Homo sapiens: one gene and its partners. The protein of the gene in region 4 purifies or fractionates together with the protein of the main gene of each other region. This does not show direct contact. Each region holds a gene or a part of one and is shown on either strand. Other genes may lie near its edges.

The links.
Region 1: the proteins of TLCD5 (region 4) and TOM1L1 purify together in Homo sapiens (affinity purification with mass spectrometry; one large-scale study listed by BioGRID and IntAct). This does not show direct contact.
Region 2: the proteins of TLCD5 (region 4) and ZFTRAF1 purify together in Homo sapiens (affinity purification with mass spectrometry; one large-scale study listed by BioGRID and IntAct). This does not show direct contact.
Region 3: the proteins of TLCD5 (region 4) and NDRG3 purify together in Homo sapiens (affinity purification with mass spectrometry; one large-scale study listed by BioGRID and IntAct). This does not show direct contact.

The regions. Positions count from the first base shown.
Region 1 is NC_000017.11:54,914,198-54,918,219, reverse strand, and holds part of TOM1L1 (TOM1-like protein 1), read right to left. Parts: intron 3,582-4,022; coding exon 3,477-3,581; intron 2,475-3,476; coding exon 2,358-2,474; intron 1-2,357. UniProt on the Homo sapiens protein: Probable adapter protein involved in signaling pathways. Interacts with the SH2 and SH3 domains of various signaling proteins when it is phosphorylated. May promote FYN activation, possibly by disrupting intramolecular SH3-dependent interactions.
Region 2 is NC_000008.11:144,448,773-144,453,084, forward strand, and holds the end of ZFTRAF1 (zinc finger TRAF-type-containing protein 1), read right to left. Parts: intron 3,799-4,312; coding exon 3,587-3,798; coding exon of another isoform or gene 3,408-3,586; exon of another isoform or gene 2,353-3,407; intron 1,999-2,352; coding exon 1,607-1,998; 3' UTR 810-1,606; downstream 1-809. Other genes in the region: TMEM276-ZFTRAF1 (uncharacterized protein LOC157542 isoform 1 precursor), read right to left, coding at 1,607-1,998, 3,587-3,798.
Region 3 is NC_000020.11:36,655,437-36,659,458, reverse strand, and holds part of NDRG3 (protein NDRG3), read left to right. Parts: intron 1-2,926; coding exon 2,927-2,962; intron 2,963-3,047; coding exon 3,048-3,099; intron 3,100-4,022.
Region 4 is NC_000011.10:120,323,824-120,328,306, forward strand, and holds the start of TLCD5 (TLC domain-containing protein 5), read left to right. Parts: upstream 1-1,475; 5' UTR 1,476-1,545; intron 1,546-3,298; exon of another isoform or gene 3,299-3,552; coding exon of another isoform or gene 3,553-3,618; coding exon 3,619-3,817; intron 3,818-4,483.

The DNA of each region.
Region 1 (4,022 bases), on a different chromosome or scaffold from region 4:
CAGATTTGGCCCATAGGCCACAGTTTGCTAACTCTTAAATTAGAGGACAGCACAATTCAGGACATTCAAGGTTGCCCACAGTGAGTACTGCCTAGAACATGGAAGGAATATGAAGGGTGCTCCATGCCTAAAAGCCAGAAGCCAAGAAGCACAAGGGGCTCTAACAGATTGGTTGAGGTACGGCAGTGAAATAACCAGGAAAGACAACCCCTGCTCATGCCCCTTCTCTCATTTGAGACCAGATAGCTGAGAAAGGAGTAATGTTTCCAGGTGGAAACAATGATTGGGACAGAGGGATAGGGTATTATTTCTAGGCACTAGTAGCATTCAGGAAAAAAATAGAGAATACATAATCCAGAAGACCATCCATAAATGGATCCCAAACAGCATCATCCCATGTTGCTATACCATACTCTGAAAATATTATCAAGCACAGCAGTAGCAATTACATCCTCCCTTCAGCATGGGTGAGCTGGGTCAGCAGAGAATGCAGACCAGCTGGCAGAGAGTCTCACACAAAAATGAGCTCACTATCAGCAATCCAGCTGAACACTGGAGAATGCAAATTAAAAAATGAACAAAAAATTTGCAAAGGAGAGTCCACAGAACAAACAAAAAAGCAGCGTTAAATATAATTATTATCCTTGGAAAGATAAAGAAAAGCAGAACCATGAAATGAAAGAACTGTTATAAAAATCCAACATATTTTAAAAATATTTTAAAATTATGTACATATTTGTATATAGTAAATATGTTTAAAGTACATATTTTTAATAGAAAGAAATTGTTGAAACATTTATTAGAAGGACTGAATAAGCAACTCAATTACAAGTTTTAGAGAAATACATTAAACAGAGAAATTATCCCAGAACTTAGAATGAAGAAATGAAAAGTATAAAAGAAATGTTAAGAGACAAATGAATCCAACTGGAAGTTTCATCGTCTTAAAGTTCCATAAGAAGAGAATAGAAAGAATGGTAGAAAGTCAATATTTAAAGTAGGAGCTGAGAATTCCTAGAATTAAAAATACACATAAGTTGATAAGGCAAAAAAGCCTATCATCTACTAAGGAAGATAAGTAAGTTAAACAAACATCTGCACACATGTACATATATCTCTTCAGAGGGAACAGTACAATTTCTGAAATATTAACGTAGAAAAATAACAAATGCAACTAGAAAAAAATATTATTAATCAAAGGATTAAGAAGCAGAATAATATAATACTTCTATCAGCATTAGTGGGTGTAAGAGAACAGTGAAGCAGTATCTTCAAAGGCCTAGAATTTTGTGCCTAGAATTTTATATCTAGCTAAACTAACCTGCATTTAACATGACAATCAGAGGACATTTTTGGATATGCAAGCACTCAAAGTTTGCACCAAAGTTTACCAACATGGGTGTACTGCAGCAAGGAAAAAACAAACTATTCACGACAGCAGTGATATCTAAGAAACATTGTTGGGAAAATTTTTACAATTTTTTTGTTTCCCAAATAAGAAATGAGCAAGGAAAAAGTTATTTACTAACAATCTAAGAAGTTAAAGGAAAAATAACATGAGAGGTGGCGAGTGGGAATCTGAGAAAAGTAAAAATATCTTAAGCTTCTTAACTTGGCAACAAAGGGACTTAGAAACTAGAAACTGATTTTTTTTTCTAACTGCTTCTAAAATTAATAAGTTTTAAAATTTAAAATAATTAGAAGAGCAAACTGGTAGAGGGAAAAATAAAGTATATGTATACACAGACATAGCAGAAGGCATAGGAGGGCTGTAGAACTACTCATGCAGGTCTAAATGCCCTGTCTACTTGTTCCTCTATAGCTCGAGCATTGCCTCCATCTAGACCATTCTTAAAAACCTCACATCTCTCCTTCTCCCCACCCATGATCCCACCATATACTGAACAAATTTATACTACAGTATCTATAATACTTCATTATGTTTGTTGTTTACAAACCAATCTTGCTCATTAGGCATAAACTCTTAAGGACTAGAATAGCCTCCTTCTCATTTCTACATCCCTTCCTATATCACAGTTACTCAATGTTTGTTGAGTGGATGAAAATAGAGGCAATTTTTACATACTTAAAACAACTAGAGAATTGATTGTACATGACCAAGGTTATAACTTATAATAAATTATTTGTTGCAAGAGGCTAAAAACCATGTCTAAGTTACTACTGCATTTCTGACAAAGTCATTCTTGGATATTTTTGTTAAGTTTAGAAATCAACTGAAATCAGGATGTAGGAGGATGTACTAGACAATATTAAGGTGTCTTCCATCTCCAAACTCAAAGTTTAGAGAATAACTTTAAGAGACACTTTGACTGATAGTCCCTGAAATCGTACAACACCTGCAGAAGCTCTATGTCTTCATGGTTTTCAGACCCAGGAGTATTCTCCATCAATATGGCGGACATCACTCGCACATTCATTTTCACCATATCCAATTCACTGTGCAGTTTTCCAATCTGTAGAGAGCAACACAATCACCAGTCAGTGCGACACACAAAGAATAACTACCTTGTTTCCTGCCCCCATGGGACATTTGCTGGATGAAAAAATGCTTTTGCAAAATTTAATATTTTCAAACTTAAATTTAATTTCATATAAATATACATATAGTTATTTTACAAATGTATACCTTGTCACCTTCTAAAAGGACTTGAGATCTCTTGTAATAAACCCCAAAATATGCTTTAGGAATTTTAAAAATGAAAGGAAAAAAAAAGATTAGAACCCAATATGGAGAGGGGAGAAGTACCAGGTACCTAGCAGAAGAAGGTACCAGAAACCTGGATAAAATGGCAAAAGTTATCCTGAGTTTCTTGGCAACCAATAGGGTAAAAGAAAAACAAATGAGGGTTATCCAGTTCTCATGGTATTAAAGAAGAAGGAATAAAGAAACACCTTTTCTTCCTGTATTAAATTCTAAGAGGAATTAGTCACATGCATTTTTATATAAGAAAAAAATAATACAACAAAATCTTCAATTATAGTTCCTTTACAGCAGAACGGAAATTAGCCTCATATAATAATTGTTTATCGGTACCTTGGATAAACTGATATACACAAAGAAGTAAATACAATTCAGTTGGCATAATAAATACAAGTAATAAGACTACCATTTACTAAACTCTCTGAAATATGTGACAGTCCTACCAGAAGTAACAGGAATTAGCTGATGGACCCTAGATCCAGTCCACAGTCAAGGCTCCAGAAAGCCATGAAAGCCGCTAGGCAAGCACAACTCTTACAAAGTTGGGCTTTGGAAGCAGACAGAACCCATGGGATTACTCCTTCTTGGAACTGAACTATGGTAAGTCACATAGTATTACTAAGCCTCAGTCTCTTCCTCTGTGAAATGAGTGTACCTACATCTCAATGTTGTTAACCAGAAAAGACAAACTGTATATAAGGTGCTTACAAATCAGGAAAAGACATCAATTAAATGCAATGATTGTTGTTGTTACCTGTTCTGGGACCAATGTAACAGTCGAGTTCTTTGGAGCAATTACAGAAGAAAGAGCTGGTGCAGTAGGGACAGATGTTGGAGGATTTGATGAGATTTGAGCAGTCTATGAGTATGAAACATGGTAATATTATTATGTGAATTAACATAGCCACCCAACGCCAAGTTTTTTCCATTCAGCTAACTCAAGCACTCTCAAAGTCCTGTGTACAGGGTATCTGCCCAGAGTAAATCATCAGCTACACAACCCGTCCAGCATTTTGTGAAGAATGCTAAGCAAATGACATGCCCATAATAAAGCAGGTATTCAACAAAAGGTGGCTATTAGGATTATCATTTACAATTTAATAAAATGCCCTTTTTTTTTTTTTTTTAACCAAGGGTCTAAGTGATAAACTGCCATGTGAGATTATTGATGCCTTCTCTTTGGGTTGTTAATAACAAATGGTAGCTCAATTCATGTCAAGTCCTTTTAAGCCACAGCTGACAAGGCATCTCCTTCTCCATCAATGACCCTCCTTGGGTCAATGCCACATCTCCAACCTTG
Region 2 (4,312 bases), on a different chromosome or scaffold from region 4:
CACATCAGCTCTGCAGGAGATAAGGCTCCGGCAGCGAGGCACTCCCAGCAGGCCACACGCCCTGGCCTGGGAGTAGAAACCCACAGCATTCTCAGAAACAGCTCCAGAAAGTTTCAGCCCGTGAGGGGCAGTGCGGCGGCCCGGGAGGGAAGAGCTGACTGGGAGGGTCATGCTGGGCTGTGCCATGGTCAGCCGCCCGGATGATGGCGCTTACATTCTGCCCCCAGTTCCTCTCCATTTCTCAGCCCTCGACCCGTGACCAGCAAAGCACAGGACAATGTGGGCCAGGCCCCAGCAGCCAGTGGGGGCGGGTTGGGCTGCTGTGAGGCAAGTTAATGCACCTGACTGGAGCAGAGGAAACCAGTTCTTTGGTATTGAAGCAACAAAAAGCTATCACGGAAGAGCCACATCTCCTAAGCAAAGGTGGGGGCGTCAAGCTGTATCCTTCCCAGTAGCCCTGGGAGTCCCAGGGGAAGAAAGGACCAGGGATTACCCCTCCAGGCAGGGTTCCTTCCCATCCTGTTAGGCCAGCCCTGCTCAGCCACCACGGGGCACATCAGGGGGCGGCCAGGGTGAGGATGGGAAGGGCCCACCTCCTCCAGGTGAGAAGCTGGGCTGCCCAACCTCTGACCTCTGCAGCGAGCCCTGAATGCAGGGCCAGCAGCAGGACCCCGAGAGCAGCATGGGGGACACACCTCAGACTCTCACCCAGCCAGGCGCCCAAGCACTGACCCAAGCTTTCCACACAGCCTGGGGACGCTGGGCCCTCAAGGCTGAATCTACAGTAAATAGACTCTTTCTCACTAAAATTGTGTAACTTATCCAAGAGCCTGCAAGGAGTTTAATCTTTTTCCTGGGAAGAGACAATTTCACCCTGCTTTCGGAAAATGCCTGCTGAGCCCTGGTGGCTGAGTCCTGTCTCCCTGGGAGCGGCCGGTTGGCCAGGGCAGCCCCGACCCTACCTGGATCTTCCTGCCCAAGCCTCAGTCTCAAGACCCCATGACAGAGTGTAGGGGGAGGCAGTGTCTCTGAGTCTTTCCTCGGGGGACGTGTGCGGGCACACAGATGGGGGCGGGGCAGGCTCTGACCCCCAGGCCAAACCAAAGCCCCCACGCTGTCCATTCACAGCCATGCCTTCCCCTCGAACAAAACAGAAAGTACGAAACAAGGCTGCCTTTTAATTGCTATCAGATATTCGGATATCCCGTCTGATGTCAGCAAGGCCCCCGCGCCCCGCCGGAACCCGCAGGGATGGAGCAGCACCGCCGCCTGACTGCACAGAAGGGCTGGGGCAGGGTCGCTGTGCCTCTCGGCCTCCTTGCTGCCACCGTCTCTGAGCCTCGGGGCGCCTGGTGCACCGTCTCCTCTTCGGGTCAGCCCAGCCTCTGGCGGCCCTCGGAAGGAGGGGAGGCAGGGGTCGGGGGGGTGAGCCGGAGGCGGGGGCCCCGTCGCGCACGCATGCAGACTTGCCCTGTGTTGGCTTCGTTTGTTCTCCTCCTTTGCTAAAGTGATCAGATAGTCCTGTGAAGCAGCTGCCAGCCAGGTGGACAGGGCAGCGGTGCTGGGATGCCGCCCGTGGGCTCCTCGGACATCCTGAGGCCCCGCCCTACTTCTGTATCTGGAACAGGAAGAGCCGCAGGTTGATGTTCTTGGCAGCCAGCAGCTTGTTGCACTCCACGGAGTCAATGATGGGCAGTGGCACGTAGTCCGTCTCGTTGCTCTCGTTGGTGAAGACAAAGTGGTAGATGACGGGGCTGATCCTCACGTCGTCGTAGGGGCCCTTGAGCAGCAGGAAGGAGCACTCCAGCGGTGCCGTGACCTTGCTCTTGAGGAGGAGCTGGAAGGAGAGCGTACGCTTGCAGGACAGGTTGGGGTTACGCTCCGAGTCGTTGACTCGAGCCTTCAGGACCCACGTCTGGTTCAGCACTGTGAACCTGGGCGTCTCATAGTACAGGCGCGTGATGAAGTCGTCTGTGCGGTACGGCCGGAACTGGACCTCTGTGGAGACAGACAGGGCCGGAAAGAGCCGGCTGTTAGTGTGGGCAGGGCTGGGCAGCAACGCCTTCCCTGACCAGGCCGAGGGCAGGCTCAGCCGGGGAGGAAGGCAACTTACCCGGACACCGGGCTCTGCTTGTCACAAGCAAGCCAAACGCAACTATGGCAAATGGAGGTGCACACAAGCTTTGAGGGGAACAACCACAAACAGAATCAACATGGATTAGCTGGAGAGTCCAGAGGCTGCACGTGTCAGGCCACACCCCAGGCGTGCCCGACCCACGCTGGCCTCCCTCACCGCCCCGAGCCCCGGGTGTCCCCCAGGGCGGGGTAAGCAGACACACAGACAGGATGCGGTTCCGAGAACAAGTGCACTTTATTGGTTCTGATACAGAGGAGCTGCCAGAAAAGCCAGCAGGCGGCTGCGGCACCCAGCCCTGCCCGAGGGGAGCACCAGGTCTGCAGGCACCGGGCCTGATCCGGAGCTGCCAATCAGCAGGCAGCCCTGCCTGCACAGTCCTCTTGGGCAGCCCACAGCCTGTGGCCGGCAAGTCCCTCCGTGGAGGCGTGGGTTCCCAGGTGGCCAGTCTTTCCTGCGCGAATGGGGCTTCTCACCTGGCCACGGCCACAGCCACAGTGCCCCAGCCTGCCTAGACTCCACGAGGCCCCGGTATCTCCAGGACAGCTAAGGCTGCTACTCACCACGGGCTGTGGCTGCCGCAGAGACCCCAGGCCCTCGGCCTCTCTGGCCTGCTCGGGCCCACATCCCGCTGGGCACAGTCCAGGCAGCAGGGCGGGACTGGCTGCCCACGACCACCCTGCTTGCGCCACGCCTGGTGCTCTGAGCTGGCCGCCTGGTGTGGGCTGAGAGTAGAGGGATGGAGCTTCCTCCAGTGGCCCCAGCATCAACAGGTGCTTCTCGCTGTCCTCTGGGCCAGGCTCTGGCCTGGCTCCTGCTCCCCGACACGTTCAAAGGCGGTGGCAGCGGCCCAGAGAGCCACGAGATCCAGTGTGCCTGCGCACGCATCCAGCCTGGGCGTCTGTGGGTGTCCACTCCCGGTTCTACAGTTTGAGTCGGGCACCCTCAGCTTGTTGTGGAGCCCTCTCCCTGAATGGCTTCGTGCCAGCCTTGAGAGGCCCATGGCCGGGGCAGTGACTGCCTGCAGGTAGGACCTCACTCGGCAGGGTGCTCTTCTTGCCCCAGGGTCCGAGGGGCAGGCCCCTAGCTCCCAGGCCCCCTGAGACCTGCCCACTTTCTGGTTAGACCCTGACTGTCTTGAGGCTCTGGAGCCCCACAGTGAGATGCCACCTTGCAGGGATGGTGAAGCCAGGGTGGCGAGGACAGGTGGGCGGGGCTGCTGTGAGAGCCACACAGGTGTGCACCTGGGGTCTGCCTCGGCCCCTCCTTCCACTCAGTCTCCGGCCTGTCTTCTCGACCGAGGTGTCCACCTGTCCACCGGGAGCTTGTCCAGAGCCCGGCTGTCCGGCGCTGTCAGTGCCCAGTGCCCAGAGCCTGCTGCCCCCAGACTCCTGGCTGCCAGCCCCCCAACCCACACCTGTGTGGCATGCAGCAGGCGGCGGGGCGCCTCACCTGTGTAGCCAATCTTCTCGAAGCTGAGCAGGCTGAAGATGCTGTTGTACAGCTGCATCTCCTTGCGGTGGCTCTGGTCCATCCCATCCAGGATCTCCATCAGCTCACTGCCTGTCTTGGTCGGGTGGGCGCACGCAGCCTCGTGCACCGTCAGCTCATGGAAGGGGCCGTGCCATGGGCAGCCGATGCGTTTGTACTTGCACTGGGTTACCCTGGGGGAGGCAGGTACATCACTCACAGACTGAGCCCCGAACAGGAGGCTGCAACAAGCTGTCCTCCCATATGGCTTCCATCCAGCTAAGAACCCCTTCCTGCAGGACACACGTAACTGTGAGCCCACCCCCCAGGATGAGGTCAGAGTGGCAGCATGTGGAGAGAAAGGAGACAGGCAGAAAAAGGGAGAGAGAGGGGAAGGAAGAGTGCAAGCTTGAGCCTGTGTGCCCCGCACCATGGCGTGGTTCTCTCCTCTGTTTGGCAGTGGTGGTCCTGCACAGCCTCACTGCAGGAGACTTGGTGGCTGCCTCCACTGGATGGGTAGCCATGGGCAGTGTACCCTCACACCAAGCTCCCTGAGGTCCTGCGTTGGACACGCTGTCCTGGGCCCTTCAAGGGGCTCCCCCACAGCCACAAAGAGCACTGGAAGGCTAGGCTCATGTCCGGATAACAACTGGGTGCAAAACCCACCTGTCCCCATCCTGTGCAGGCACCCTCCCACAGGGCCGTCAC
Region 3 (4,022 bases), on a different chromosome or scaffold from region 4:
ATACATTTTTACATCATTAAAATTAGAGACGGGCTGGGCACGGTGGCTCACACCTATAATCCCAACACTTTGGGAGGCTGAGTTGGGCGGATCACTTGAGTCCAGGAGTTTGAGACCAGCCTGGGTGACAGAATGAGACCCTGTCAAAGAGTATTTACAACCCTGTATCTGTTTTCCTCAACTTTATGACATAGCCTTTCCCATGTAACTAAAAACTTTGGCTGGGTGCAGTGGCTCACACCTATAATCCCAGCACTTTGGAAGGCCGAGGTGGGAGGCCAGGAGTTCGAGAGCAGTCTGGGAAACATAGTGAGACTCTGTCTCTACAAAAACAATAAGAAAATTAGCTGGGCTTGGTGGTGCGCATCCGTAGCCCCAGCTACTCAGGAAGCTGAGGCGAGAGGATTCCTTGAGCCCAGGAATTCGAGGATTTGTGCTCCTGATGCTGCACTCCAACCTAGGTGACAGAGTGAAACCCTGTCTCTAAAAAAAAAAAAAAAAAAACTTCGTCAACATGATTTAATATTGTGAGAAGATAATGGATGTAAATTCTGTATATGCAAAATCCTGCTGTATTGGTAAGGAAGCTTTTAGTAACAATTCTTATGATGAGGGTGGATGCATTTTCTTTCTCTTAGGGCAAATACAGACCAACTCTTATGCTAAATATCTAGAGTTAGTATCAAGTGTCTCCCCTTTTGAGTATAACCGAGGCAAGAGTTTCTGCCTGTCATTGTTTCATCTTAGCTTTTCCTAGAGCCTCTACTAAAGTGTTGAGGTAGCTGACCTTCTAGTTTGAACTTGGGAACTTGGACTACTGTAGATTTCAATGCCGATCGTATGTTGCTTACTGCTACATTTTCAGTCTGAAAGACCTCTGCCATCTTCCTTTTCCCTTTGAAGTGTGTTTGAAAGGGAAGTGCTGTTACCACAAACGCCTGTAGTTCCTAGAAATCTAATGTGAAGTTAATGCTCTGAGGTGACCACATTCAAAATGTTCTGCCCTCCAGGCAATTGATGGGCTGGTCTAAAAATTTTGGGGAGGGGCTGGGCATGGTGGCTCACACCTGTAATCCCAGCACTTTGGGAAGCTGAGGCCAGGAGTTCAAGACCAGCCTGCCCAACATGATGAAACCTCATCTCTACTAAAAATACAAAAATTAGCCGGGCATGATGCTGGGCACCTGTAATCCCAGCTACTCCAGAGACTGAGGCAGGAGAATCGCTTGAACCTGGGAGGTGGAGGTTGCAGTGAGCCAAGATTGCACCATTGCACTCCAGCCTGGGCAACGAGAGTGAGACTTTATCTCAAAAAAAATTTTTTTTTAAGTTTATAGTTTCAAATTAGTTTCTCATTTCAGGTTTGAATCAATATACAAAAGCATAAAACTAAACCCTACAATAACCATAGACATAGTTATTTTTCGCAAAAATGCCCATCTACAACACCATAGAATAGAGTGGATAACTCCTATGGCAGATTGAACTGATTCTCAAACCATTTGATAGGTACCCATCTTGGAAATAGTTTCTCCCAGTATTCTCTCTGCATATGGGAACTGTTCTGTGTTCTAATCAGGTTTCAGCTCCTAAACTTCATGAAAATACAGTCTGTGCTGGTTTGGTTTTTTTGTATATTTGTTAAATGTTTGTTTATAATCTTATGCTTAGAATTTTCAGGGGCCTCTCCCTTGTTAATCTCAAACTTCTGCGTCTTCTGTGGCATTCTCCTCAGTAGTAGTCCCCCTTCATAATAAGTTTTAATGCCAGTGAATTGAAACCATGGGGTTCATGTTCCTTTTTAAAAAAAGCCAGTCAGCCTGAAGAATACCATCTGAGTCCAGAGTGTGTAACAGCTGGAAGAAAGAGAGCAGGCCTATGGCCAACATGCCCTAAAAACGCTTTTCTGTGGACAGTAGATTCAAATCACCTGAGATCTTATTAGAAATGTACGTTCCTTTTTTTTTTTTTTTCCTGGAGACGGACTCTGTCGCCCAGGTTGGAGTGCAGTGGCATGATCTTGGCTCACTGCAACCTCTGCCTCATGAGTTCAAGTGATTCTTCTGTGTCAGCCTCCAGAGTAGCTGGGACTACAGGTGTGTGCCACCACGCCCGGCTAATTTTTGTATTTTTAGTAGAGATGGAGTTTCACCATGCTGACCAGGCTGGTCTGGAACTCCTGACCTCAGGTGATCCCCCCGACCTCGGCCTCCCAAGGTGCTGGGATTACAGGTGTGAGCCACTGCGCGCGGCCAGAAATGCACAATCTCGAACCATACCCCAAACCTATCAAATCAGAATCTCTGGGATAGGAATCCAAGAATCTGAGTTTTAACAAGTCCTTCAGGTAATTCCAGGGCACACTAATGAAGCCATACCCTAGAAATCCTTGCACACGTGAGAATAACCAGCTGTAAATGTTTATGAAGTGAAAAGCAGCATTACCAAACCCAGCTATTAGAGGAAAGTGGCTGACTGAGCAAGCCGGCTGAATCAGTATCAGCTCCTGATGGCAGAGTGCCCTTACTCACGGAGGAAAGATAATGTAGAGTTGAAATGGGACTTGGAAAGCTTGATGCACAGAGAAGTTAGGGTCACACTGTTCGAGGGCTCTGAAAGGAACCTTCTTCAGGTGGTTTTCATGGTTGAGAGTAGTGGTTAACTTCACTATCACCTCAACAGAAAATTCCCACCATGGGCCTGAAAGTCAGGGCTTCAGTCTTATTGATAAATAAGTATGTAATAATTATTTCAGATTTTCATCCAAGGTTATAAATGTTTGTACGTAGGTGCATTGAGATGCAAACTTGCAGTTAAACATTAAAACCTAGAATTCAATCTTGTTCTGTTTGAAAGGACTTGGGGTGTTCAGAGCAATTCTCTTAAGGGTAAGTCCCAGCTGACTTGCATATTTTTCCTTTTCTAGATGGCGGACTGTGGGGGACTGCCCCAGGTAGTTCAGGTAAGGAGAATTTTTTTTAAACACCCATTTAATTCTGCTTCTCTGTCTATGCAAAAATTAATGCCCTCTTGTTTTATCCCCCCAGCCTGGGAAGCTCACCGAGGCCTTCAAGTACTTTTTGCAGGGAATGGGCTACAGTGAGTAGTACACAACTTTCTATCTAGCAACGATTTAGGAATATTGGGAGCCAGTTTCACATCTGGGAGCCCACAATTCTTGAGATATAACCTCTGTGGCAGCTAGCCTTAAGCAAAGTAGAAACTGAAATGTTTATGGAACATTCATTTGTCCGTATTTGTAAGCTAACACTCAGCACTTACTTTCATCAGGCAATATATATTCTTTTTTTTTTTTTTTTTTTTTTGAGACAGAGTCTCACTCTGTTGCCAGGCTGGAGTGCAGTGGTGTGATCTCAGCTCACTGCAACCTCCGCCTCCTGGGTTCAAGCGATTCTCCTGCCTCAGCCTCCCAAGTAGCTGGGACTACAGGCATGTGCCACCACACCCGAATAATTTTTGTATTTTTAGGAGAGACGGAGATTCACCATGTTGGCCAGGATGGTCTTGATCTCTTGACCTCATGATCTGCCTGCCTTGGCCTCCCAAAGTGCTGGGATTACATGCGTGAGCTACCGTGCCCAACCTATATATTCTTAATCTAAGAAGTCATTCTGTTATTAGTGCCAATTTATAGAAGAAGAAACTGAGGCTCAAAGAGACTAAGCACATTGCCAAGGGTAAAAATTCAGCTGCAGGGCCATGATTCAAACCCTGACAGTCTGACTCCAGAGCCCACATTTTGAACCCCTGCAGCTTAGGCTGTCCTAGGTGTGAATCTGAAATTATGATTTGCATTTAAACTCAGCTGGTTAATAACTCCTGACCTAGAGAAATGAAATGGAGACTCCAGGAGAAAAGGGCAGTATCCTTGGTAAAGTCTCCTCCACCCCAGGGGACGAACTTGGAGAGTGTTTTAGAGCAAGTCCAAGGGTGTGTCCATATCATATGCCATTGTCCTGGTCTCTTGTATTGTAAGACCTCTGAGCTTTTTCATGGTCACA
Region 4 (4,483 bases):
ACTGGGGAACTTGTTAAAATGCACATTCTAGTTTGGTAGGTCCAGGGGTAGGTTCTGAGATTCTGAGTCTCTAATGAACTCCAAGGTGATGCAGATTTTGCTGGTCCATAGACCACACTTTGAGTAGCAAGGGCTTGGAGAGCATGATAATATGATTCCCTTGTTCAATAACATCATGAGCTTCCACATAATAAGCTCTCTCAGCCTGGCATCTTAGGCTGGCATCAGAGGCATTTAAGGACTCTAACAGCAATGGTTATCAAATGTGATCGTCTGAATGACTCCTGGGCAGGTTTTAAAAAATACAGATCCCTGGACCCCATACCAGACCTAATAAATCATAATATTCAAGGTACAGCCTGCACAGGGTATTTGAAAACACTTCCCAAGTGGCATAGTTGATCAACACACTTTAGGAACTGTGATATGCTTCCAAGATAGTTTCCCAGGCTCATTTCACATTAATTCAACATACAAACATTTATTGTACCTGCCTCATGCTAGGTACTAGGGAAACAAAGATGAAACCAGTGCCATCCTTACCTTTGAAGAGTTGGTAAGATAAATGACCAAAACTAGAATATTTACTATTCCCCAGGCACGGCCTAAACACTCACACCTCTGCTAACGGTCTTCTCCTTTGAGAATGTCTAGGTTCCTCAGCACCCGGGATTGCCTGTCCTGATCAATCAAGACAGACACCGTCTTTACCCCATTCGAGCCTCCATTCTTATCGCTCAAACTTACTCTGCTTGGTATTAAAATAGAACCAGAGAAGAAAAGGATTTACCCAAAGTGAAATAAAACAGTTGGTATTTATGTAGTGACTTCCATGTGCCAGTCATTGTTCAAAGCACTTTACACATGTAATATTTTAAAATTCTCAAAATAACCATATGAGATAGGTGTTATTACTATCCCCATCCTCAGGATCGAGGAAAGGGAGGCAACAGAAAAGTAACTTGCCCAAAGAGGTACCAAGCAAGGTTCACTTTCAAGCCTTATGCTTTACTGTCAAGTTGGTTACAGGGCTGACTGGAATACTGTAACTTCTAATTCTCAGGCCTGAGCACTTTCCTGCTCATCAATTCCTGTTTCACGACTTAAATTCAAGCACGAGGGCAAGAACGATGTCTTACATCCCCCACAATGCCTAGTAAGGGTGCAAGTACTTAGTAGGTACTCGATAAATTGATTGGATGAGCTGTCCCATTGAGGGGAGGGGAGAAGTGGATAATGATTTAAACAAACAACAACAGCTAAACAAGAGCAGCGGCCTCCAGGTCTCACGTCACCGCTAGATCCCTCTTGACCCCCCCGCCAGAGAAGGAGGACCCTCCCGCGCCCTTTCGGAGCGTCGGTGGCCCGGCTCCGGCTCTGCGCTCCATCCTCCCAGCCAGCAGGTGCCCCCAGACCCCCGGCTCCTCCTCCGCCGCCGTCACAGCCTCGTCCTCCGCCTCTGGCTCCTCCGCTTCCTGTTGCCGCGATCCGGGCCGGGAGCTGCGGGCGCCCGGGCGCCCGAGGCTTCCCGGTGCGCTCCGCCAGGTAACCGCTCGGCGCGAACTGCCCGGCCGGGGTGGGCACGGGGCCCGCGCGGCCCATTGGTGGGGAAGGAGGCGGCAGAGGGCCCGGGCTCGCCTCCGAAGGGGAGCGGGCCTCCTCCTGCCTCGGACGCCCGAGGCCTTCCTGCGCCAGGCTGCGGCGCCAGCGGGATGCGGGGATAACGGTGCCTGGCTCCGGCTCTTGGTCCGGGCGTGGCCGAGCGTCGCAGGCACCGCCGCGCGGAGATGCGATCGCCGTCCCTGCGAGGCCCCGGGGCCCGCGCTCGCCGCCAGCCACGCCTGCTCCAAGGCTCCTCCTCGCCAGTCTGGCCCTGGAACGGGAGAAACCAGGAGAGGAGCCTTGGACCTCTGAGCCGCGATGGCCTTCCAAATGCCCTTCCGTTCTTTGGCAAAAACCAAGAGCAAAAAGCCGAAACCCACACAGGGAGTTCCCAAGGTCACAGAGTTGTGTCTGCCATTTACGAATGTCTGTTCTTTTATTTAAGTGTTTGTAAATGGGCTACTGTTTTCTCTGTTCTGCCAAGGAATTAGGATTCAGAGAAGAAGACTCTAAAAATACTAATAGGCATATCCAAATGAGCTGATCCGCATTACTGGCCAGTGACCCTGGCCTTTAGAAGGAGATAAGGGAGGGCAGTTCTCTTCACCTGGGATACTTTGTATTTCTGGCCCTTACTCTGAGAATTGGCCTTGATGTTTTACAAAGTTTATCTCAGAACTCCATGTCAGAACTGGACCGGACTGTAGAGTTCTTCAGTCCTAGTCTCTTTCTTTCCTTTCCCTTCCTCCCCTTCCTCTTCCTTCTTTTCTTTTCTTTAATTTCTTCTTTTTTTTTTTAACTGTGGTTCTAGAGGTTAAAGTGATTTGCCCACACTCTTATGGCTAGTCTCTCTAGGGACAGAGACAGAATTGGAACCCAGGTCTATTATGGACACCTACGGTTTTCTTGAATGGAAATCTGATTTCAGATGAAAGCTGTACAGAACTTGACCTTCATGAAGCCCTCTCTGGATAGCATTCTTGGGAAGTGGCTTGTGTATTGACGTCCACAGATAACTATTTCACTGGTCAGAATAAGGTTAAGCAATAAGCATAGCCATGCAGAAAATGTCTGCTGAGATGAAGTAGATATCTGATATGTTTTTGACTTTTTATTTGTACGTTTCAATGGAGGAGCTAATGAATACTAACTAATAACAACATCTTGCTCATTTAGATTTTAGTCCTGTGTGACTAAATTGACTCAGTTATAGTTGTTCTTGTCCTAACGTATTTGTCACCAGTAAAAGTTCCAAGGTACAGCTTTCTGGCTTCATTTCATTTTTAACTGAATAATTGCCTTAAGGATATTTTTAGATCTCAACAAAAACTCCCCTCCTCTTGAACCTTAGAATCCTTCTGCTTCACTCTTGGCAAATCTTTGGGTCGGATTTCAGAACTGAATAAAGCCAGGATTTCCCCCCAACCTCCAAGATGTCTGGACTCTTTGTTTAGTTCTGTATTTAAGTTTATCCCAAGTTTTGTTTTTGACTGATGAACCTGTGACCCAAATCCAAACCTCAGCTGAATTTAGTATCAGCTTAAAACCACATTAAACTGCCATGTGTCATGTGACCTCTAGCAGAAACCAACGTGGCAGTGTTCTGTTTTTTCATGAGTGCGTTTCATTGGGGTTTTTGAACTGTGAAGACATTATTTAATACATGTGCTTTATTTTCTGTGTATTATTGCCCAAGGTCAGTCATCGCTAGAGGGTTATTATTGACATTTACTCATCATAAAATGTGATGTCAGCCTACCAGCTCGGAGTGCAGTTCCTGGTTTCCAGTTTACAACATTGACCAGTTGCTAACATGTTATCTCTGAGGAACTTGGAATGATAAATACAGCCATACTTAAATAGAAGATTCTTGGCCGTGTAGATAAGGAAAATAAGATAAGGCAATATTTTTGAACTATTCTATAATAGAAATGAGGATATATACACAAAATGACCCAGTGCTGTTTTCTTAGGGTGCATCCTTTGTTTTTCTGGTTTTGGTCTTTTCATCACAGGATGGCATTAGCTCTGTGTCTGCAGGTGCTGTGCAGCCTGTGTGGCTGGCTCTCGCTCTATATTTCTTTCTGCCACCTGAATAAGCACCGAAGCTATGAGTGGAGCTGCCGCCTGGTCACCTTCACCCATGGAGTCCTCTCTATAGGCCTCTCCGCTTATATTGGCTTCATTGATGGCCCATGGCCTTTTACCCACCCAGGTAGGTAGGGGATTTTCCCTTAGGGATTTATGATTTGGGGGTAGTCTTAGAAGTATGGGACTTTTAAACAGAATTTGTACAATACTGAAGACTAATTCCCATTATAATTTTGTATTGGAATCCTTATTCTTCTTCATTGTTAACTCTGATATTGTTTATGTCACCTGTTGTTTCTGCTTTTCATAACTCTCTACTTTTAAAACAGATTTTAAATTGCTTGTTACAATTTAATTGGAAATACAAAAACTATAAAGCCAGTATCAACATCTTCCACTACCACCCCCGAAAAGACAAAAATAGAACTGTATCATACATATTTTTGGCAACTTGCAACTTTTACTTGACTGTCTATTCAAAAGACAGCATCTTTCCATGTCTATGTTAAGAGGATGAGATGTTCCTTATCCTTTTTGTTACTAGATGTACAAGTGTTACTTTCAGAAGTATGCAATTTTTTTTTTTTTGAGATGGAGTCTTGCTCTGTTGCCCAGGCTGGGGTGCAGTGGCTCAATCTCAGCAAGCTCCGCCTCCCAGGATCACGCCATTCTCCTGCCTCAGCCTCCCGAGTAGCTGGGACTACAGGTGCCCGCCACCATGCCCAGCTAATTTTTTTTGTATTTTTAGTAGAGATGGGGTTTCACTGTGTTAGTCAGGATGGTCTCGATC